Regions from separate parts of the Homo sapiens genome. Here regions 2 and 3 are each linked to region 1. Evidence: fine-mapped expression QTL. A gene starts in region 1. Each other region holds a variant in brackets. All regions are shown on one strand. Distances are between the middles of the regions. Region 1 holds the start of LINC00092 (long intergenic non-protein coding RNA 92). Region 2 holds the start of LOC158435 (a long non-coding RNA gene). Region 3 has its middle 87 kb from the start of HSD17B3-AS1.

Evidence for each region.
Region 2: its variant is fine-mapped to the expression of LINC00092 in thyroid (GTEx, PIP above 0.99).
Region 3: its variant is fine-mapped to the expression of LINC00092 in coronary artery (GTEx, PIP 0.96).

Annotation. Positions count from the first base shown.
Region 1 is chr9:96,017,074-96,025,252 of GRCh38, forward strand. LINC00092 (long intergenic non-protein coding RNA 92) reads right to left here and starts at 4,738. Exons shown (of 2, transcript NR_024129.2): 1 at 4,512-4,738; 2 at 2,659-4,208. ERCC6L2 (ERCC excision repair 6 like 2) reads left to right here. Exons shown (of 19, transcript NM_020207.7): 19 at 1-1,374. It overlaps LOC105376159 (a long non-coding RNA gene), which reads right to left. Exons shown (of 2, transcript NR_188619.1): 2 at 6,187-8,179. RefSeq lists a silencer at 3,918-3,967 and enhancers at 4,178-4,227, 5,660-6,160.
Region 2 is chr9:96,065,752-96,073,930 of GRCh38, forward strand. It overlaps LOC158435 (a long non-coding RNA gene), which reads left to right and starts at 88. Exons shown (of 9, transcript NR_033838.1): 1 at 88-117. The variant C/A (reference allele first, on the strand shown) is at 4,341.
Region 3 is chr9:96,155,014-96,163,192 of GRCh38, forward strand. No RefSeq gene overlaps it. Among named protein-coding and RNA genes, the nearest start is that of HSD17B3-AS1, 87 kb to the right of the region's middle. RefSeq lists a silencer at 4,705-4,917. The variant C/T (reference allele first, on the strand shown) is at 4,144.

The sequences.
Region 1 (8,179 bases):
CCTTGCCTGCTGCTCATTCCATCATCACGGATACAGACTTGTTTCTGGTTTCATCTTCCACCAGAGATTGCAAAGCATCCTCTGCCCAGTGCTTCTAGGAGGCCTTACTGGGATGGTTCATAAGCCACTTTCCTCTTGGTGACAGCCCCTGTACACTGTGGCATGTACGGCTGGCTCCACTTGGTATTTGTTGCAGGAGGGAAGAACATCTCACTTTTGCTTGGCTAAAGGGCCACCCCAGGAGAGCTATTTTGCCTCAGGGTCTTGCAGGGTTTCTCTAGGAAAACAGTGCATCTGATAGTTACTCTCTGCCCCTAGGAGGAAAGACAGATTCGCCCTTCCTTCCCAAGTCCCAGGCTGTGTGGTTCCCAGCCCCAAGGGTAGCAAGTCAGAACCTCCGGAGAGGCTTTTAAGCATGCACATGTCCAGGGTCCTCATCAAGAGACTGAATCAGGGGGTCTAGGGCTCAGCACAGGCACCCTTTTTGTTTTTGCAGTTTCACAGGAATTCTGATGTGCCAGTGATTGTCAGGTTTGTCCCTGGGCAGGACCCACCTGCCTGACCTTCTGTCCCCCTGGGACACAGTATTTCCAGAGAGGTGCTTCAGTTGCCCCACCACGACTTCCAGCGCCCCCCATCTCTGTATGCAGCTGAGCTCATGATGGAGCCCACTGTGTGCTTTTTGTTGTTGTTACATTCCTATAAAAATGTCCACGCATATTTGAACATCTGTGTTCATAGTGGCATTATTCACAATGGCTACAACACGAAGAAAGCATTCCAAGTACCTATCGATGAATAAGCAAAATATTACACACACAGGAATATTATTCAGCCTTGAAAGGAAATTCGGACACGTGCTACAACATAGATGAATCTTGAGGACGGTATGCAAAGTGAAATAAATCAGACACAGAAGGACAAATACTGTATGATTCCACTTATATAAAGTACCTAGATTAGTCAGATTCATAGAGACAAAGTAGAATGGTGGTTGCTAGACGCTGGAGGGAGGGGAGAAAGGGGAGTTATTAATGGGTGTAGAGTTTCTGTTACACAGGATGCAAAGTGGCCTGAAGATGGATGGTCGTGATGGTTGCACAGCAATGTGAATTTAATGACACTGAAGTGTACACTTAAAAGTCATTAAAATGCTAAATTTTGTATGTGTTTTACAATTTTAAAAATGGAAAAAAAGTAAGACCAAAAGCAACACCTCTCCAGAATGTGTGTTATATACCAAATTTTGATGTATGTGAGATTGCTGACTATATTTTACTTATCAATTTGAAATTATATTGTTTTTATGTTGACACTCCATATAAGCCATTATTTTGAAAAAAACATTTTCCTTATTAAAAGATTGGAAAAAAATTCACACATAGCATTGTTTTTCTTTTTTTGTAAGACAGAGTCTCACTCTGTCACCTAGGTTGGAGTGCAATGGCGCAATCATAGCTCACTGCAGCCTCGACCTCCCAGGATCAAGGGATCTTCCCACCTCAGCCTCCCAAGTAGCTGGGACCACAGATGTGCACCACCCTGCCCGGCTAATTTTTGCATTTTTTTTTTTTTTTTTAGAGACAGGGTTTCGCCATGTTGCCCAGGTCTGGTCTCGAACTTCTGGACTCAAGCAATCTGCCTGCCTTTGCCTGCATTGTTTTTCTATTATATTTCATGTATTTTATTTGCTTTGCTGCAGGTTAAACTATGATGTTTATATTTATTGCCTAAGTTTCCATTAAGACCAATCTTAATTATACCAACATGATACCTTTCTGCCATGGACAGAGATAATACTCATCTGACATTCTTGGTTTTTTGCTGCTCTGTCTTGTAGATAAGAATCAAGAATGCTTCTTTCTACAGATATCTTTTTCGTTAGCTAAATAGGCCTCGCAGTCTCGTTGAAAGAAATAACTAAAACTCACTTTATGTTGTTTCAGTTTATCTGGCAGGGGGAAAAATGCGTGTGCAGCTCTGAATTTCTAATACGTCTCTAAGGAAACTCCAATGAGTTGTCTTGTCAGACTAAAATGTCTGGCAACTAAAATTATTGGCCTCCCTACATTTTTTAACTTTGAATTTTCTTAATTTTTTTGTAAAGTGGGATATGTTTCTGAACTGAAAGAAACTTCAAAAGAAGCCTCATAATAGCTAATTCATATTTTCTCTTCTTTCCTAAAACTATTATAAAAGCACTAATGGGAACAAAACAATTATTTTTCAAAATATAAATGCCAGGATGCACCATATGAGAAGCCCCCAGCCCCCTCTGCTTGCCTCCCAGCACCCGCATTGTGCTCCAGTGTTCAGCTTTCTCTTCCTCTCCGTCCACCACTCCCTGCCCTCTCTTCCCACTGCCAGTACCTAAGTGGCCTTCCTTCACCTGTGCCTGGCAAAGCCCTAGGTTCCTTCCATGTCACCCCTGACTCCTGAATCGACAGCTCCCTCTCTCAGCTTCCTGCTCACCAAGCTCAATGGAGCCTCAATGACCTGCCCACTGTTGCCTGAGGCAGCACTCTCACTGTCCCAAGACCCCATCACACCTTCACCTTGCTGGGACCTCCTAACTCCCTCAGCTTCCCCTACTCCACATTGGGGGTGTATCAGTCCATTCTCACGCTGCTATGAAGAAATACCCGAGAAATACCTGGGTTAATTTATAAAGCAGTTTAATTGGCTCACAGTTCCTTATAGCTGGGGAGGCCTCAGGAAGCTTACAATCATGGAGGCAGTTCACGTGAAGGGGGAAGAAAGGCACCTTTCTCACAGGGTGGTGAGAGAGAGGAAGGGGGACGGGGAAAGCCCTTTATAAAAGCATCAGATCGGCTGGGCACAGTGGCTCACGCGTGTAATCCCAGCACTTTGGGAGGCCGAGGCAGGCAGATCACAAGGTCAGGAGTTCCAGACCAGCCTAACCAACATGGTGAAACCCTTTCTCTACTAAAAATACACATTAGCCGGGCGTGATGGCGCGCACCTGTAATCCCAGCTACTCGGGAGGCTGAGGCAGGAGAATCTCTTGAACCCGGGAGGCAGAGGTTGCAGTGAACCAAGATCGCGCCACTGCACTCCAGCCTGAGTGACAGAGTGATACTCCGTTAAAAAAAAAAATCTTGTGAACTCACTGTCACGAGAGCAGCGTTCAGGAAACCACCTCCATGATTCAATTACCTCCACCTGGTCCCGCCCATGACACGTGGGGATTATTAAAATTCAAGGTGAGATTTGGGTGGGGAAACAGAGCCAAACCATATCAGGGGGCCAGGCCTTCAGCAGGTGGATAAGATGGGAGGAGTTCTGAAATACACACCCGGGATGCTCCAGAGGCCAAATCATAGGGCAGGTCATCCCAAGGACAGCAGTTAATTCACTGACATGCCAGCAAAGGGCAAACCGAATCGGCCCCGCGGAGCCCAGGTAGGGGCGCCGCTCACCTCCTAAAATGCCCTCAAAGACCCCTTAGGGCACAGCCATATGCTGAGACATGTTGGGGTGGACAAGCAGGTCTCAAGAAGCTTAGAATGTCCCCTAGGTGGACGCTAAGGGACAAGGCCCACCGAGGAAGGCAGCTGCAGATGATGGAATGCCCTCCCAATGGCGGGAACAAGCAAGGCTTCCGCAGCTCAAAAGGAGAAACATGCTTTGCGCTGGAGTCCTCAGAAAAGGCCACTTCCAAACTGTGGGGATGGGGAGTGGACGGGCCTAAGAGAATGGGAAGGCAGAACACCCCTTCTCCAGTCTCCCTTGGCCGTTAAAACCCCAGAGCAGCAGCAACGTGGGCTGTTTGGTGCGGAGGTTCCTGGTTTGGGTTGGCCAGGCGTAGAGTGCTTCCGACAATTCACCCACCCTCCAAGACGCGCGGGCCGGGGAGCGGGGAGAGGGCGGAGGGAACGGCGCACCGGGCCCCGTCGGACTGTTGGACCAAAAGTCCTCAGTGTCGGGGGCTCGCAGCGCCGCCGCGGCGAACCCAGCTAGGGGGCACCGCCTGCGCCGGGCACAGGGAGGCCGTTCGGCTTTCCCCCTCGCGCCCATTACTCTCAGGCGTCCCGGGGAACCCCGCGGGCCAAGTGTCGGGCTGCGTCCGGGCAGAGGCGGCTTCGCCTGGTGTCAGCGCGTTTCCGAAGGGCACCCGCGGCGGGGCCCACAACTCGAGCTGGGAGCCGCCCCAAGCAACCCGTTCCTCCGAATCAGGCTGCTTTTCTCTGTAAAGAAAAGAGAAAGCAAGCGATTAACTGATGGCTTGGCCGGCTGGAAACGGGAAAGCGAGTTCTCCAGGAGCCGCACACCTCGGGGAAGCCCAGTCCCTCCCGGGCAGGGAGCGAGGGGCGGTCCTGGGGGCTGCTTCCCGCGGGGAGAGAAGGGAGGGCGGCGCAGCCCTCTGCGGGGTCCGCCCCTCGGTTCTCCGGACCCCCGCGGCCTGGGGGACACGGGGCAAATTCTCGGATAGCGACGGGCAGGAAGGGGACCCGGGCTGGCGATGGGCCGAGTGCCTCCTTTGCTCTCACCCCCGCGCGAAGACGAGGCCAGTGGGCGGGTGGCGTGGGGCGAGGCCTCCGCAGGCCGCCGGGGGCCCAGGCACCTGGAGCCGGGAGGGTCCGCTCCCTTCCCCGCCCTGGATGGCGGCCTATGGGAAAGCAGTCTCCACTGGATCCCGCGCGCGTCGCGCCGAGGTCGTGGGAAACCGAGGGCGGGAGGGCGGGAGGGCGGAGGCGCCGGCAGGGTCGGCGGGACTGGGGCTCGGACGGAGGACAGGGGCGAGGAGGAGGCAGGAAGGACGCCGGGTACTGCGGGGCGCCTAGGGGGTTCCGAGCGCAGCGGCTGCGGGGCCGACCCGCCCAGGATGGAATCAGGGCCCCGGCGCCCCCACGCCGCTCCTCCAGGCCGAACCCCTGCGGCCCCAATCCCCCGGCCTCACGCCCACCCCGCAGGTCGGCCCTGCAGCTGCCTTCCCTTCCTCCACCTCCCTCCCGCCTCCGAAGCCGGCGCCCCCGGCCAAGTGGCCGCTCTCAACCTGTTACCAAGTCCTAGAGAGAATTTCTCCAAAATATTTCCTGGATCCCCCTGCCAAGGGCCCTGTCCCGCCCTTCCAGCTCCCAACTGGATGCCTGCAGACCTCTCCCCGGGTTCCGAGGCTCTGGCCTCCTCCCTCCCTAATCCATTTTCCACACCGCTTCCCCGGGAGCCCGTTAAAATACACCGGGACCGCGGCGGGTGCAAGCCTCCTGTATCTCCACATAGCAGGCTAAGGGGAATTGGGTAGGGAATAAAGGCTGCAGGGGACATCGGCTGGCAGGTATGAAGCCCGTATTGTGTGTCGTTTGTTAAACACTTCCAGTGGATTTTCTCGTTTAATCTGCCCAACAACGCTTCTGGGCCGGTATTCGTATTGTTTTATAGAGGGAGAAACTGAGGCACAGAGGGGCACTCGGCTTGTAAGCAACGGAGTAATTCAGAGCCCGTCAGCCCCACGCCGAGTTTATTCACCCTGGCAGGGGCTTCCGCGGGAGCCATGACCCTTCCTAACTGGGGTGGAAGGACCCGCAGCGCCAGCCGGGTCCGGGCCAGACGGCAGCGAGTGTCTGTTAATAGGGATGCTGAATGGGTCAGGCAGTGGGGCACAGGTTCAGTGTGATCTGGAATGCCTGCGAGGCCCCCTTGCTCATCCACCTGCCTTTAATGGATGGGTGGTCTGAGTTTCTGGAGATGGGCAAGATGGAGCAGTCTCCACACTTGGCTCTTCAGCCCCGGCGCCCCCCACAGCCGCCTCTGCTTTCCTGGAGATACCGCAGGCTCCTAACCTCAGGCCGGCTTGTGCTGCTCCACCCTCTCCCTCCCCCACAGACACAGGCCACTTAGCGCGCTCTCCCGTCCCTCACCCCTGCCAACAGCAGCCACTTCTGGCCACTTCCTTTACATGTGAATGAGTCCAGGTCTGGGCTGCCTTTGTCCGGGGAGGCCGGTGGGATTTCCATCAATAATTGTTGGTTGGTGAGTCAGGGGTCAGCAGTGGTCTCCTTTCCAGGACCCAGAAATGACACCACAAGGGTAACTGGCCACTATTTCCTGCCTAGGAACTAGCAGCATCCCACCCCCACCACTCCATGGCCTAGATAAGACAGGCCAAGACCCCAGAGACAACAGGACTCTGGAACAGGGAAGGGATTTATGATTAGCATAGGCTCTAGTTAAATTCCTTTTTTTATTTCTGTGCATTGACCTATTATGTAATATGCTTTTTTCTTCCTGGAATACAGATCCTACCAGTGGTTTTATTCCTTTTTTATATAATGTTTAATTCATCTGTCTCTGTAAATCCATCACATGAAATTGAAAGGGTCTCAAAGAGCAGACTGTTTCCCCCCTAACTCTTCCACTATTCAACCCAGGGGCAAGCACTGTCATCCCTCACTGCTACCAGCTTCTGGTCAGTCTTTCTGGCCACACGTATGTAGACATGCTTCATTCTTTTAACTGTGTTTTTGATGTTTTCTATATTAACACCAAAAAAAAGTACACTAAGAAATCAGTGCTATTTCCGAATGGAGCCCGGAGTTTCTCAGCACTGCGCTCCTCCAGTGCCAGAAGCACCCTACTTCTCTTCCTCAGTTGCTTCATCAATCACATGGGGCTGGGGCAGTGAGGAGGATGTATTTGCCTCACATAGAGACTTAAAGGTTTTCCTGATCTCCTCTGGGTACAGAACAAGAAATTAAGGATGATCTGAAATATACAGGGCTTGGATAAGACTTGAAACAATTGTGATGATAGGAATTGCTGGGTTCTGGAACCGAGGATTGCAGTAACCAGGGGCTCAGAAAGCTGAGATATCCCTCCAGTGAAAGGGGACCCGGGAGCATAACTGAACAAAAGTCATTTCTCTTCCTCATGATGGGTATTTCTCTTTTTCTGGTGAGAAGTGTCAGTATCAGCATTTATCTGCTGGAGACTGTTTAAATGTTAGGTGTACTTAGCAACGTTGCATCTATTTTTCTTAAACACGAATCACTTTCCAGAAGGGAACCGAAATGACCACCTCTAAAAGTTGCTACTAACTATTGCTCCAGAAACCAAAGTGATGCCACTCACATGGCTGGCCATAGTCTAATTTCTTCACAAACAGAGGCAGAGCAGCTTGCACCACGTAACCCCAAAGCTTTTCTGTAACTGATCAGAAGTTCCTTTCTCCACCCTTTAGCAGAGGTGCTGGTGACCAGGGAAGAGGAGAAGGTAAAGAGCAGAGTGAATGAAGGGAAGTAGGGGACATAGATTCTTTAAAGTCTGGGTAATCAATCCCAATGTATTCAAGAGAGACCTCAACTTGCTTTCCTAGATGGGACGTGGTGGCCCACGGCATCCATAGCAAACCACTCTCTTCTTGGATAGTTGGCTCCCAGACTTGAAGGCTGTGCTCCTTGCTGTCCTCGGACCTCTCCAGCGGTCTCTTTCTAGTTTCCTTGGTGGGCTCCGCCTCCTCCTCCTCACCTTGTCCCTTGGATTTCCCAGGGAGCTATCCCCAATCTAGGGTTAGTCTCATGCACCCACCATATTCTAGGGGCCCCTCCACTCACTCTCATGCTTTTAATGAATTCATTTATGGGTGATCAGGAATCTTCACCATAGCCCAATCACCCTTCTGAGTTTCAGGTGCACACCCTGTTGCTTTGGTGTGACTGCTTCCCGTTGGGTTATCCTTGGGCACCTCACACTCATTGTGTCCAAAGCAGAATTCTTCATCCTCAACTCTGCACTCATCCTATATTTGAGACTCCTAACTCAGTTAATCGCATTGCTTCAGTCATTGACCTCATAACCCAAATCTCAGCACCATCTTTTTTTATTTGGTTGGATGCTTCCATTCCTCTCAGCCACTGTATTCACTCAGTAACCAAGACTTCCAGAGTTGACCTCATAAATATTTCCTTAACTCTGATGCCTTCTTTCCAGTTTCCTACCAGTGTCCTAGTTCCTGAACCACTGGAATAGCTTCAAGTCTTTCACTTCTTAGGTCTTCTAGAGAAATTTGTCATATCTAGTAGAACTCTTTTGTTGAAAATGACGCAGACTGGTTTAAGCAAAAAAGCAAAATCATGGATGTCAGGCTGGTTTCAGGTGTGGCGTGGTGTCGAAGCTCAAGGGACACCACCCACACCCTGTGTCACCAGCTCACCACTCA
Region 2 (8,179 bases), 49 kb after region 1:
TCAGCCCCCTCATCATGGGATGCCTTGCACCACCCTGGGGCCCTGCAGAGTCCCTGCCAGCAAGAGGGCCCTCACCAGATGCACCCCCTAGACTTGGACTTCCCAGCCTCCAGAAATGTAAGAAGTAAATTCCTTTTCTTTATAAATTACCCAGTTTCAGGTATTCTACTACAAGCAATAGAAAACAGACTTAAAATAATATGCGAATGAAGTCTTCTCAAAGAATGCTTGAGTCCATAGCGTGTGCTCACAATGTGTTAATTGTTAGTAATAAGAGGAACAGAGTTGATTCTACTGATTACATTGATATGCTATGATGCAATATATAGAAGTCCAGAAAAGTCTTTTCTTGTTTCCTGGAACCGAAATGATTAATTTGGGGGAAAATGTATATTAAGGGTCTTTTGTCTACCTCAGAACTGCTCCCCGGGCTTTCACAGGGGAGGTGTTCCCGGACCTCTTTTATGCACGGATGCACTTGGGGGGACTGCCCCATGCCAGCCACTGCTCTGCAGATGCCATGAGGAATGGGGGCCGACTCCCTGCAATTGAGTGCTGGGGCATATGCCGGGTTTCACATGTAAATGTGCTTTTCTAGGAAAGTAAAGTTTTCTCAGGCCTAAGGTTGTGTCAAACACAGCAATTTAAAAAAATGTCACAGGAGATGGCCTGAACTAGATTTTGGGCTGCACACCACAGGAAACCTTCACTTCTGGTCTATTCAAATAGTTATTTTCTTCAATTTTCCAAAATTCCCTCAACTTCTGCCACCAACCGTCCACCCAAAATTAATCTCCTTTATTCTGCTGTGGGTCAAAGGAAGGGAAGGAAGATTTCCTGAGTGATTCTTTGGGCAAATGCCATAGACCTAACTCTGCACTCAGGTGCGACTCGTACATACTTTGTCTCCATTTCTCTTCTCCATTTCCAAAATGAACTTTCCTGGAATCATCTTGGTGAAGAACAGCCTTTATCTCTGGAGAAGGCGCTCCCAGAACACCTCCCATGTTTTACTATCCTCACCGGGCCACCAAGGCCTCCGAGGGCCAAGTCCAGGGCTCCCAAAGTAAGCAGGACCCACAGACCCCCATGCCCCCTTTGGGGACAGCTGAGGGGGGCTGGGTGTCCCTTTAGGAAAATATTTGAACACAGCCGGTGCCCTCCTTCCTGCCACCCATGTGGTTGTGTTTTTAAATATGGCTTGAACTTGAAGCAGTTTCCATTTATAAAAATTCCTTTGCAAAATGTTCTTTCCAATAACAATATTCCCATGTGTGCCTTTGCTTCTGATATTTTTCTTATAAATTAATCTGCTAAAACAGAGTCCTCTTGGCCTTTGGCTTTTGGTGTCCGCAAATGATCCCGCCCCCACCCTGCGGTTTTGGGACCTCCTGCTTTGGCTCTGGGACCCAGAAAGTTTAGACCGCCTTCTTTTCATTCCTGGGAGCTTATCTTACAGGGTTTCCACAGTCTGTGCAGTGCTGAGGGCCAGATGTGCGGCAGCGGCCTCCACACAGCCTCCAAGGCTGCTGGCCCCAAGCAAGCCCAGGCAGGTGGCCTCCAGGGGCACCGCACATGCCCCTCCTGCTCCTTCCCACCACCTTCCACCTCTGGGAAAAGAAAAGACAGGCTGCCTTCTTACTTTGTGTCCTCAAATACCAATGACCCCTGCTGCCAGGGTTCCCGATTTGGGCTCAACATAGGCGTCACATTTCAAAATCCCTGAGCCAGGCTCCACCCATGCCCATCAGAGGGGACTCCATAAAGGAAGGACCCCAACAGGAGGGTTTTTGGAAGCTCTCCGTGACTCCGATGTGCCGCTGAAGTTGAGAACTTGTCCTGGAGGACACCCCCAGCACCCCAGCCAGCATGCCCAGGAACTTGCCAATAGCTGATCAGCCCAGTAGGGATTTGATCACGGGACTGGGCTTCTCCCCCTGGCAGAGGGCTTCTCTCTGCCACATGAGGATTTAGTCAAGTGCGGTGGCTTTGTAACTGGAACTGTATAATATTACTCACTTCCAAACGGTGGCAGGCTTAGAGAGATGACCCAGTGACCATTACGAAATGCCTGCAATCACTGCTGTGACATCTAGAACCACAAACCAATTTATGTTTGATTTTGTCAATATTGCATTTTTCTAGTACGAAGAAAAAATGAGGCACAAACAAATTTAAATACATATACATAGATACACATATGTGTGTACAATATATATGTATACATGCATGAATGTGAGTAAATATATAAATTTCAATATATACACACAATATGTAAATACTTATATACATATATATATATATATATATATATGTATATCTGTACACACACACATCTAGAAATGATTCCAGAAGGACATGGGCTTGGGTTCGAATTTTGGAAAGGAAGACTGATACTTTAATACTCCTTTCCAGAAGCAACAAGGGTCTTTAGTGGGAATGCTGGGGGTTTTATAGAAAGAAAAATCATAGTGAGATGGGCTTAATCAAAAAAAATCTTCTGCAGCCAGGCACAGTGGCTCACACCTGTAATCACAACACTTTGGGAGGCTGAGGCAGGAGGATTGCTTGAGCTCAGGAGTGCAAGACCAATCTGCCTGGGCAACATGGCAAAACCCCATCTCTACAAAAAATACAAAAATTAGCCAGGTGTGGTGGGACATACCTGTAGTCCCAGCTACTTGGGGGGCTGAGGTGGGAGGATCCCTTGAGCCCAGGAGGTCAAGGCTGCAATGAGCTGAGGTCGTGCCACTGCACTCCAACCTGGGCGACACAACGAGACCCGGTTTCAAACAAAACACGAAGCCTCTTTGAACTTGACAGACGGTGTAATGTTAAGCATGGAAATTCATTTTGAAACATGAGGAGTGTGGCAGGCCCCCCTGAAGGACTCCTGGTCTAGGGGCCCTGAGATCTGGCACGCTCCTCGATGGCAGGGCCTTCGTGTTCCTCTGGCTCGCTTGTCTGGCAACCACCCAGCATCTGACCAGTGCTCCTGCGATATTTGCTAGAAACAAATAAATGAAACCCAATACTTTTGAATTTCCATAACAACATTTATCAACTAGGTTTCAAGTTTAGAGGTACATTTCAAAATATTATTAGTGTTAAGCCCCCTCTCCCCTCCCCACTCACATACACACCTTCCCACGGTTCCTTCAACCCATTTAACTGGCTGTTTCCTCCCTGATTCCTTTTTTTCTAAAGAGCTATCCTGACAAAATCACTGAAACACCTTGATCTATAATGGCAAAAACAATTTGAAAAGACAGTGAGAATAAAGAACCTTTTACTGGGTTCTGATATGAAGGGGTGTGACAGTAGTTTTTCTGAGGTATGAGCCTCTCCATAAAAGAGTTGTCCAACTGGCTACTTCCTACCTATAAATGGGCATTTCAGGGAGACAGGGAAGCTGTACACACACACACATTTATGGAGGAAAGATATTTTAAATATGTTTCAACCAATAATAATGTAAAAATACCCAGGAGACTTGTGATGTGGAGCCAGAAGGAGTCTATGAGGTGAGGTTATGTCTGCCCCAGTCCCCTTTGAAGCACTTAGAAATGTGACGAATATAGAAAAAAACCAATAATCCAAAAAGGTGGGAAAGGGGTAGGGAAGTCTTTACCCTCCATGACTTGGGCAAGCTCTGTGTTTTGAAGGAAAAGCAAAGTGTGAGTCTAAGTAAGAAACATTTTAGCACTTTAAGGCAGGGGAGGTTTGCAGTGCTAGAGAGAGCCGAAATTCTTTTGAATCATAACATTTCACAGCACTACGAGAACACCCAAGATTTTGCATACTAGGTTAACTAAGCCAATTATACTTCGTTACATTGTAATAAAAAGTCTTTATCTCTTGAGAAAACTCAAGCGATTTCTTGTTGAGTGCTGTGTAGGTCTGATGGAAACCCTTCAGCTTCCTGTCTGAATTGGGACTGAAAGGCTGGCAATCAGAATTGAAGAGACCTGATTTTCTGGGCAGAAATGTATGGGTTTTTAAATGCCCTGTCCGCCTCTACAGATCTGCTTATGTCATCCACAACTTGCAAATAAGACATGCTCAGCAGTTTACAAATGGGTTGTGTGCAACTTAGGAAGCATGCTCGGTTCTGTATGCTTGAGCCCTGACCTACGCGACGTATTCTATGCTTCCACATCACTGAACTCACCATTCTGCTAGCTGGCTCTGTCTGCCATGCCTTGGTGCATTTGCCCATGTGGTGACCTCTCCCTGGAATTGCCTTCCTCTACTTCTCCACTGAACAAATACTCAGTCTTCTTTCAAAACCTGGTGTCACCTCTACTCTGAAGCCTTGCCTGATCCCACGAATAGATGTC[C/A]TTGTCCTGCTCACAGAGCATGTAAGCGCACTTACGTGTTATTATGTATCTTTCCACATGTCTTCCTGATCAACAGGCTGTGAAACCCTTCAGGGCAGGGATTATGCTTCATTCTTCTCTGTATGTCTGGAGCCTGGACCAGCACCTCTTGGGTTGTTGTTCTAGGAGTAATCAAGCAGGAAAGTTCCAGCAAAAAGAAATTCCAGTAAATGAAGGAAAAAGACATGGAACCCAGGAAATAGTGCCTACAACCCATGAGAGTGGTAACAGCAAGTCCAGGAATAACAGCTGTGCTGCGGACCCTGATATCAGCCATAGGCGAGGAGGCCTTTGTGAGGAAGAAAGGGAGAATACCTGATATGATGGAGACTGCAGAGACAGGAGGGCAGAGAGGCTGAAGCTGTGATGATGGCAGATAGTACAAAAACAAAGCCTATTCACAACTCTAGGAAAAACAAACTTTATAAGAAAAGAAATGATTTATTTCATGGAGCTAGCGTAAACAATACCCACATAGTCATAAAAATAGAAATTTTGAGGGCCAGGCACGGTGGCTCATGCCTGTAATCCCAGCTTTGGGAGGCCAAGGCAGGCAAATCACGAGGTCAGGAGTTCAAGACCAACCTGGCCAACATGGTGAAACCGTATCTCTACTAAAAATACAAAAAATTAGCTGCATGCAGTGGCAGGTGCCTGTAATCCCAGCTACTTGGGAGGCTGAGGCAGGAGAATCACTTGAACCCAGGAGGTGGAGGTTGCGGTGAGCTGAGATCATGACAGAGTGGGACTCCATCTCAAAAATACATATATATATAGAAATTTTGATTCTTAATTTAACGACAATAGTGATATATCTGTATCAGGACAGAGGTGGCAAGGACATAGGTAACTAAGTTAGGGCCAACAAAGTCTGCACCAAAGTTGTTGGTAGGACTTATGAACATGCTCCCTAAAAGGTCAAAAAACACTTGAGATATCCCCCTTTTCCTTTCTCCTGCCTCTTTCTTGCCAGATGTGGGGACTTCAGGGTTGCTACGGCGGATCCATAATCATTTGGGTCCAATTTCCTTCCATCTTTCTGCTCCTCACGTATGGATTCTCTTATGTGAGAGAGAAACAAATCTTTATCTTGTTTAAGCAACTTTTGCTGGCTCTCTGTGCTGGCAGCTGAACATAATTTCTATCTAATATAAGACATGGAGCTTATTATTTAGAGATATGGAGCTAACCATCCAAAGAAACACAGGCCTCTCAGCTGTGCTAGACAACTTGGGGCATGTACAGGTTGGAGGGTCTGTGGGAGGCAGAGGCACACTGTTGATGCATGTGCACCCCATGCTGAGGGGTGACCAGTGACCAGGCTGAGAAAGCCAGGCTGAGTCAAGGAGTGCCTCCTCCCAGCAGCAGCTTTGCCTAATTCCTAATAGGATGCATGTGTCTGGCCATCGATTTAAACAGCAGTTTGGATTATGGAATGATTGTTTCGGCAAACTAGGCTGGACACTGCTGATTGAACCCCAGAGCTGACACTCTTCTATCTCCTCACTCCCCTCCCCTCTCCTGCTTACATTCTCTGCTGAGTGCTCAGCCTTTTGCAGTTCCCACTATCCCCTGCAGGGACACTGTGAATGGTTGTTCAAGTCATGCACTGAACTAGTCATTCATGTGATTATTTTTTTTACTTAAGAGAGGGATTCCTTTTTCTAAATCACAGAAAGCCCCTGTATGGACTGGGATCCCCCTTTCTCCCATTGCCCTTAAATAAAATCCAAAATGGCCTGCCCCCACCGACCTCACTAAGCCCATGGTGACCTCCCCTTGTGCACATCACCCTAGTCATAAGGCACTTCTCTTCCTTTCTCACATGTATCAGACCTCTTTCAGTCTTGGGGCCCTTATGTTTGTTCTTCTCTCTGGAATGTTGTCCTCTAGATTTCCATTAATCGGGTTTCTGCTCAATATCATGTCTCCACCAAACCCTCCCAGACGGCTCCACCCAGTGTTGCCTTTTCTGTAACCATCCTGTTACACCGTTTTATTTTCCTGATAACACTTATGGCCATCTGACATTTGCTTGTTTCTTTACTTGTTTGATACTTGCCTTCCTCGTTAGTGTGTAGGCTCCATGAGGACAGGCTGTGTCTGGGACAGGTTGGACTCCCAAGGAAGCAGACTGTCGGAGACAAGGATGGAGATTTACCAGGGTGTACTCTCAGGAACCCCATCTTGGGAAGGGAAGAGAAGGGAAGGGAATAGGACTGGGCAGGAGGGAAAGCACATCACAGCCAGCTCACCAGAAACATCAGCCAGCCCTGCAGAGAGTTCTGAAGGTGGGCTATCCCTGCAGGGAGTTCTGAGGGTGGGCTATCCCTGCAGGGAGTTCTGAGGGTGGGCTATCCCTGCGGCCTTGTCCCAGGTCAGCACACACACCGCTGGGCTTTGTGCTCCTCATTGGTCCTTCACTGGTGCTGGGCTGCTCTCTAAATGCGCTGTGATCTTGAGGGAAGCAGCTCCCTGTGGCTCAGGCAGTCCGCAAAAAGGCTGACAGCTGAGGACTCCCTGCTAGCAACGTCCTCAGCAGTGTCCTTCCTTCAGGGTGACCTGGGGGGCACATCAGAGCATCCAGCATGTCTATCTTGCCCATCACTACACCTCAAGTGTCCACAACATCCTTGGTCCATAGGAGGTGCCCAGTAAGCTTTTGATAGATGACTAAGGGACATACAGGCCTTGGTGGCTTGAGGGTCACCCGTCTCCTTCAAGCACGCATTGCATATGACTGCTCCACACCACTGTGTTTCAATCTTATATTTTAATCCCTGAAGGACGTGTTACTTCCTAAATTTTGGTGCAGATTATCAGACAGGGGACAGATCACTGTCCCAATTGCCTTACCACCAAAACAGAGAGCCTGAGAGAGGCAGACATCTGATCAGCCCCCAGCCCACTCCCTGGGCACTCTCTCTGCCCATGCTGGGGGCTGCTGGCCCCCACAGCTCTGCCGCGCCCTGACTGTGGGACTGCCCCCACAGAACGCAAAGCAACGGTGCCTCTCTTTAGGGGTCCCCGTGGCAAGTCTTCACTAAACTGTGGCAGCCTCTCAATCTGACGCCTCTACCTCCTGAAGAATATTCTGTTGTCACACAGCCCTTCATTCAGCACAGATGACTCGCCCCAGAACACAATACAGGCCTCCTTCACCGAGGACAGCTTCTTTAGGCAGATTTTAACATTTGTGCAATGAAGATTAATTTTACGTTGAAAACTGTAGAGTGTTAAGCTTGAGAATTTGAAATATATCTTATTGAGACGAGAGGGCTAGAAACTGTCCCAGGGTCATGAGGGCAGAGCATCCTTTTTAGGGCGAGCTCTCTACAAGCACCAGGTCGCCACAGCAGCTCCTCTGCGGCTATGCATTCGCCATTCTTCCCTGTGTCAGCCGTGGTGCTGTTGACAAAGTTTCTTTTCCCATATCTTCCAGAACTTGATAGGCTTGACCTTCTCCACGCCTTTGAAATCATCGCACATGTGATTTGTTCTTGCAGTGAAATGTGAGTGGGAAAGACGTGCACCATTTCCTGGAGGAAGCTTTGAGGACCAGTGCGTGCTTTGAAAACCAGAACTGCCAGTTCTTGTCCTGCTTTTTCAATGGTGATAACATATCTCAAGTTGGCATGCCCTCAGCTGGGCCTCTGAGTAACTGGGAGGCTGACGTGCAAGGGAGCAAAAAGCAAACCTTGGCTGTTTAACCACAGATGTGCAGGATTTATCTGTTACTAAAGCATTACCTAGACTGTCCTGACCAAGCAGTACCCTCCCTCCTCTCTCCTTCCCTCTAT
Region 3 (8,179 bases), 140 kb after region 1:
GACAGAGGGAGACTCCGTCTCAAAAAAAAAAAGAAAGAAAGAAAGAAAGAAAGAAAGAAAGAAAGAAAGAAAGAAAGAAAGAAAAGCAAAAGAAAAAAATTTTTTTTTTGAGACGGAGTCTCGCTCTGTCACCCAGGCTAGAGTGCAGTGGCACGATCTCGGCTCACTGCAAGCTCCGCCTCCCGGGTTCACGCCATTCTCCTGCCTCAGCCTCCCGAATAGCTGGGACTACAGGCGCCTGCCACCGTGCCTGGCTAATTTTTTTTTGTATTTTTAGTAGTGACGGGGTTTCACCGTGTTAGCCAGGATGGTCTCAATCTCCTGACCTCGTGATCCGACCGCCTCGGCCTCCCAAAGTGCTGGGATTACAGGCTTGAGCCACCGCGCCCGGCTAAGAAAAAGAAAATTCTGAAACCTCATTCAAGTGCAAGTTATGGACAGGCTCAATGGCTCACCCCTAAGATCACAGCACTTTAGGGGGCCAAGCAAGGCAGGAGGATTCCTTGAGAGCCCAGAAGTTCAAGACAAACCTGGGGAACATAGAGAGGCCCCATCTTTACAAAAATTTAAGAATAAAAAATTAGCCAGGCATGGTGGTACATGCCTGTAGTCCTAGCTACTCTGGAGGCTGAGGCAGGAGGATCCTTGAGCCCAAGAGTCCAGGGCTGGAGTGAGCTATAGTTGTGCCACTGTGCTCCAGCCTGGGCAACACAGTGAGACCCTGATCCAAAATAAAAACAAATGCAAGTTATAGATTAGTGTTACTCATAATAGCACTTTTCACCATCTAACATACTGTATATTTGACTTATTTATTCTGTTTCTTTTCCTACCCCCACAACTTTCCAACCTTCCCACTCATTACCAATGTAGCCTATAAAATTTTATTCTCTGGAGAACTTTGAGAGAAGGACAGGTAGGTCTCTGTCAAACCAGGCTAGTGATGATACTACCTGGAGGACAAGGGTAGAACCAAGGAACTCTAATCGTTACTTTGAGTCCTAATTCTGTGATTTCAGTCTCTCTACTCAGGGTCAGTCCCAGGGTAACAGGCTAGTCACAATGTTGAGATCAGCGTTCTGAGGCTGACTTCCTTTAAAAATGTATAAAACTCTGCTCCAGAATACTAAAACACTTATTACAGCCTGAGCCCCTCCTCACCTGCCTTGAGAAAAACATTGCATTTATTGAACATAGATTAAGCTACAGGCTGCTCCACATCCATGAGGCCCCGAGTCTGCCCAGGACTTTCCTAAACTGCCTTCAACTTGACGGTTCTGCCAGCCTTTCCAGGATGGGGTGACTAGCCACCCCCAGAATCCAGGCCAGCAACATTTAGTCAGCATTCAGCTTGTACATTCTGTCCCCTCCTTCCTCCCTCTGGGAGAACATATGGTGAGAGCTGCTTTCTTTGGAGCAAATCCTTAAGGAAAAACAGACTTTTCATCTTTTTTTTTTCTTAAGTTCCAGTAAACCCTTTTACTGATTTCTAGGGAAATCACTTTAGAGCTTAATTGTGCATTTCCCATCAGAGTCATCACTTCTGTTACTGGAGAAAATGCAACCCACAAGAGGTTTTTGAGGCGGCAGGGAGTGTGGGCTGGGTGCGCAGGTGCATGTATGTGCATATGCATGTGCACAGATGTGTATGCACACACCAACGTACACAGTGCACCTACCCATCACTGAAAGCACTGCTCATGAATAGTCCATTTCCTCTTCCAGAATTGGCCAAATCACGCCATTGTTGACAGCCCAGCTAGGCAGCGCCTGATGACATTTTTGGCCCTGGAAATGACAGGTGTTGATGACCCTAGCCTTCCTCTGGGCCTCTGATGCTAAGAGAGCTCTGTGCGTGCGTGTCTGGGGGGTGGGGCAGAGGAGCAGGAAAGGGCTGGCTCCAGGAGCCTTAGCTTATTTCGCTTCTCCTAACAAAGGCAGGAGGCAAACACCACTGCCAGACTGGGGGCAGCCAGGCATCAATCCTGAATTAACACACGTTATTGTGCTGAAACAGAACGGCCAGCCTTACTTTTGTCCTGGGTGCGTGGGTCATGTCCCATAGGAAGACCCTGTTTCTCTTTTCATTTGCAATGTTTGGTGCAGTGTTTATATTTATCAAGGAAATAGGTGGAAGTTTCAATAACGCCATGTTGTTCTCTCCTTTCCCCAGATGCTTGTGATCAGCCCCACTAATACAGCAGCTATTTCCTTTAACTTTTCTGCAAGTCCAGACTTTGATTCATGGGTCCAGGTGTGCCCACCTCTGAGAGACGGCCCGGGGTGTCATCAGTAATTGCCAGATGGGGAGCTCAGCCCTATGGTCTCAAACCCCTATCTGTTCATAAATGCAGCTCTTGTCTAAGGAGTAGCTTGGACAGCGTGAGTGGGGAGGTGGCCCCGTGTACTGAAACCGCAAGGCGAGGAGAGTAGCGCTCGCTTGCAGACTGCAGCAGCGCCTGCACACAGCGCTGATCCCTGCCATTCCTATCAGAAAACAGGAAACATCGTGGCCTTTAACATAGTCTCCTTCAAAATCAAAATGCTGCTGCTTCTCCAAATAAAATAGAGCCAAAAGTCATGGGGGAAAGTGTGTGTGTGTGTGTGTGGGGGGGGGTGTGTGCGCAGTGTGTGTGGTGTGGTGTGTGTGTGGTGTGTGTGTGTGGTGTGCGGTGGGTGTGTGTGGTGTGGTGTGTATGTGGTGTGTGTGTGGTGTGTGTAGTGTTATGTGTGGTGTGTGGTGTGTGTGGTGTGTGTGTTGTGTGTGTGGTGTGTGCTGTATGTGGTGTGTGTGTGGTATGTGTGGTGTGTGTGTGGTATGTGTGGTGTGTGGTGTGTGTGTGTGGTGTGTGTGTGCTGTGTGTATGTGGTGTGTGGTGTGTTGGTGTGTGTGTGGTGTGTGTATGTGTGTGGTGTATGTGTGTGGTGTGTGTGGTGTATGTGTGTGGTGTGTGTGTGGTATGTGGTGTGTGTGTGGTGTGTTGGTGTGTGTGTGGTGTGTGTATGTGTGTGGTGTGTGTGGTGTATGTGTGTGGTGTGTGTGTGGTGTGTGTGTGTGTGGTGTGTGTGTGGTGTGTGTGTGTGTACACGTATGCACAGTGTGTGTTCCCAATATAGCTTTTGAGAAAACCCAAGAATTTCTTCCGCCTCAGGTAACACATGGATGGGATGCCATTGGCTCCTTTGTCTCTTTGTCCAGGGACTGTCAGTGGATCAAATCCCCAGCCCTCACTAAACCAAGCAGTACCTCCATGAGGATGAGAAACGTGCCCCTGTGGACAGGCACAGGCCTCCCAGAGCAAACCGCTGGTGAGCAGAGCAGGCCGAATTCTGGTCCCGCGCCCTCTGGTGAGTTCTTTGTGCTGGGCTTAAATTGCATACATAGATAGAGCAGTGCTGACAGATTTGAGGTTGAAGCGAAGGGAGGGAGAAGATACAGCTTTTCAATGAGCTGGAGATGCTACCAGCCAGGGATATCCCCACCGATGCATTTCAAAGAATTTCCAGAACTGGTAACCTAGTCTTTAGTTACCACCACAGCTGGGGTCTTGTTCCCAGAGTTTGCTAGTTCAGGAAAGAGCTCACCTGGCTTTCTCTGTCCAGAATCTATCCACCTCTTGTGAGCGGTCTAACACTTAGCAGTGTTCTGGTATACAAAGGGTATTCAATCAATGTTTGAAGTTGGCTGAATGGCGTCGCTAACCAACCACTCTCAGAGGATGCGTCTCTGTTGACCCCTTTGTTTTAGCAAATCGCATGCTGGAATGGCTTCCTGAAATGTATCTTAGTTTTCATGAAAACCTATAAATTACAATAGACCCCACATACTCACCCCACATACTCACCTCAACCCAGAACATACACACTCCCAAGTAGCAGGGGAAAAAATTAAATCAATAGATCAGGAGCGATTCAAGTTCATTTCACCCTGGCAAAATGTTTTAAGATCGAGTTTGAAGAAAACTAAATGTCTCTAAGGCAAGAAGTCCTGGTGACCTACCACTGGTCTTGGAGGTGGTTCAACCACAGCTCTACCACCACTCGTAACATCTGCCCCAAGAACCTTCAACACAATTGTAGTAGGTATTTTTTGTGGTTTCCTCTGGAAAAAAAAATAAGCTCAGACATGTAGTGACTAAATTG[C/T]GAAAACATTTATTGGCTGCAGTGAACCATTTCCTCTTCAGCTTAGAACAACTTCTCTAATTATTAAATTGTTGATAGAAATCACTTTAATAAATGTGGCTTTTCAGACAAGACCCACTCTGGGGAGGCAAGCACAGATATTAGGACACGTGCCATGGGAACTCTGTGGGCCCACTGTGTATTACAGATTGAAGGTTTAAGCCACGTTGAACTCTAGCTCATCACCACGAGGTTATATGAGGTTGGGGTCACCCTAACGTCACTAGGAACAGAGAGGGAACAGCTCTTTTCTTCCCTTGGGAACGAAACCTGACTTTCACAGCATGTTCAAGGCTTTAAATGCTAAATATGTTGATTTGCTTTTGCAAAAATATGATCATTCCAGCAATAATCTCTTGATACATCATCAAGCCTCTCCTTAACCTTGTCCTCGTTCTTTTGTTCACATTAGCAGGTGAAGTGCTTCTCGCCAATAAGTCAACCAGCGGGCTCCAAAATAAAAGTTTCCCATGTGTTTTTGGTAGAGAACTCTCCCAGGAAAACACAGTAGGGCTCATGGCAGTGTGGTGCAGACTCCTGCCGAGGGACGGGCAAGCACTCCTGGATGTGGGTTCCTCATCACCAGCCACTGGATGGCTTCTGTCTGTGGAGCTCAGGGCTCCCAGAAGGCACAGGAGCTTGCTGAGACAGTCCAGACAATGGGAAAGCAGGATACAGCAGGAAGAGGGGGCAAGCAGGCAGTCTTCTCAGGTGGGAATGGCCACCCTCCAGGGCCTCTGGCCACTAGGGAGACCTTACTAAAGAGAGGCAGGGAGGGAGAGAGGGAGGAAGGGAGGGAGGGGGAGAAAAAATGAAAGGCAAAAGAGAGCAAGAAAGAGGGGGAAATAAAGCAAGGAAGAAAAGAAAGAAGGGAGAGAGGGGGAAAGGAAGGAAGCAAGGAAGGAAGGAGAGAGAGAGGGAGGGAGGGAGGAAAAGAAAGGAAGGAAGAAAGGAAGGAAAGAAAGAAAAAGAAAGGAGGGCGGGAGGGAGGGAGGGGGAGAGAAGGAGGAAGGGAGGGGGAGGGAAGGGAGAGAAGAAGGAAGGAAGGGGAAGGAAGGAAGGAAGGAGGGGAGGGGAGGGAGGGAGGGAAAATAATCGAAAAGAAAAGAAGAGGAAAAAAAGAAAAAGAGAAAAGGCTGGTTTAGCCAAGCATAGAATCAGCTTGAACAACTGGCCAGGGAACAGGCCTCAGGCACACAGAAAGGGGCAGAAAGGTCCAGGTGTGGTGGGGGAAGACAGGCTCATGTCTAGCAGACATCTAGGAGGGGCCAACCAGACAGCTGGGAGGTCAGTGCAGGACAACGTGAAGCCACGACCTCCTTCTCGAGAGCTAACTGTGTGCCAGGCCCCGTTCTAGGTGCCTGGGATAGGGCAGTGAGCCAAGCACATGTGGCCCCTCCCTCACTGGGCTCACATCCTAGTGTGGGGATCCACACAGTAACAGAGAAAGGAAGGAAAAGATTTCATTTCAGGTGGTGGTGGATGCTGTGCAGACGCTGGGGGGCTGGAGTGGGCTGCTGCTTAGTGGGGTGGTTGGTGGGTGGTTAGGGGCAGCCTCTCTGATGGGGTGGAAGGGACTACCCAGTACAGGGAGCAGTGACCAGAAACAAAATCACTGGAACCACTGGAAGATACTCCTTCCCCAGCCACAGAGCCAGGGCTCAGGAGCAGGAGGATTCAAGGGGTTGCCGTGTGGCTCTTCAGGGGTGAAGAGACCACAGCAAGCTCAGGGCTGGGCAGCCTGGAGCAGGCAGTCTTTGGCAATCAATCAATAGGGCCTAGAACGCTTGACCTTCCCTGGTCTCTGTGCGCTGGTCCTCAGCAGCTTGGGAAAATACCCCCTGAAAAGACAGGGCGCATCCCCGCCAGCTTGGCTTGGTGTAACAAGTGCCACACACTGGTTGGCTCATAGACAACAGACACTTGTTTTTCACAGTCTGGGCCAGAAGTCAGTGCTAGGGTGGCCAGGTTCTGCTGAGGGCTGTCTTCTGGGTTGCACATGGCTGTCTTCTTATATCCTCACATGGCAGAATGAGGGCAGAGAGCTCCCTAGCCTCTTCTTCTAGGGTCACTAATCCCATGGATGAGGGCCCCACCCTCACGACCTAATCACCTCCCAAAGGCCCCAGCTTTTCATACCATCACACTGGGATTAGGGTTTCAACAGATGAATTTTGGGAGGATACAAACACTCAGTCCATTGCAGGGAACTCAATTCTGTCTCCTCCCCCATTCGGCCAGCTCTAATTTCAAGCAGCTCTATTGGAAGCATTCATTTTCTGTAAAGGAACACACATCTACCTTCCTAAACCCCTACCTTTGTTTCTCACTTTGTTCCCTGAAGCTTCAAGGATAAGTGAAACCGCCTTCCCTGTGAATGCCCTTCAAATATTTATGTGTGGCTACTATTCCTCTCTATGAGCAGACGGAGGCAAAGGCAAGACACGCTGGATTTCAGCACCATTCCCTCCTACCCCCAAGACCAGCATGAGAGTTCTGAAGCTCTCTCACCCTCCTTTATGCGCTTGCTAGGAAAAGTAAGCAAGATAATTTGTAGAAAGTGCATGGCCCAGTGACTGGCACATGGAGGAGCATGAGAGGGCAGCTTCTTTCTCCCTGGGTCCTCTCTTCTCAAAGCTAAGCGTCACTAGTTCCTTCAATGGTTCTTTTTGTGATGTGACTTCAAGAGCTATGATGCTCAATTGTCTTCCGATGCTCTGTTGTGATTCAGACATGCTTAGCTCAAGGCAACCCTGGAGGAGGAAGAAGGAAGCCAGGAGCAGGTGCACCCCCATTCTCCAGTGGGGCAGCTTCTGATAGCATCAGGGCCGGAGCATCAGCCGGACTGGCTGAGTCTCGTGGAGGGAGCCAGCAACATGCGACTCACTCACTCTCTCTCTCTCTCTCTCTCTCTGTCCCTCTCTCTCTCTCTCTCTTTCTCACACACACAAACACACCCCGTGACATTTGCCCTTTTCTAGCTTTCTGTCTGTTTTCTATGACCCCATGATTACAAGCAATAATTAAATCAACTTCATCTGCAGGTCCAGCCAAGATGCCTGCTGTGGCTTCTGTCATGGTGGCCTCGCCTGCTCAGGGTTTTCTCACGTCTTCTGTTCCACTCCTCCGACCTAAGGCCCATCCTGTGTGGAGAAGCGAACACGGCACGGGAGACGAGGCACTCTACTTTCTCTATCTCACATTATCCTTACACAACCTGCTCCCCGAAAGATGATTTCTTCCTTTCTCGTCTTGCTGTTCCTAATGGAGTTTTAAAAGTACGCTTTATTCATGGTTCTTGAGTTAAAGCATACATTGTTGACTCCAAGTTCCCAGCTACACAGAACTGGGCAGCACTGTTTTTAAGACAAGAGTTAGAAGTCCAGCGAAACACTTAAGTAGGAAGTCAGAGAAGATACATGCCCCCACACCCCCACACCGCCCATAAAAATGTAGTCTTTATTGCACACCAACGGAGACCAGCAACACGGAGCAGAGTCTTTATGGATTTCCTGGGAACTTGAAATGCTCTCCCTGCTCATCACTTCTGTGAATCCCTGTCCATTCCCTATAGTTACCAACAGTAACAAGCTTAAAACAAAGCAAAGATGGCAAAGGGCTCATGGCATGTGTTTTGGAGGGTGGGAGAGACATTTCTTATCTCTTTGCTCTTCTGTGCAGTCAGGAGACTCTTGGGAAAAGCAGATGAAGACAGGCCAGAAAGAAAGCCGGGCGCAATGGCTCACGCCTGTAATTCCAACACTTTGGAAGGCCGAGGCGGGTGAATCACAAGGTCAGGAGTTCAAGACCAGCCTGACCAACATGGTGAAACCCTGTCTCTACTAAAAATACAAAAATTAGCTGGACTTGGTGGCATACAACTGTAATCTCAGCTACTCGGGAGGCTGAGGCAGGAGAATCCCTTGAACCCAGGAGGCAGAGGTTGCAGTGAGCCAACATCATGCCATTGCACTCCAGCCTGGACGACAGGGCAAGA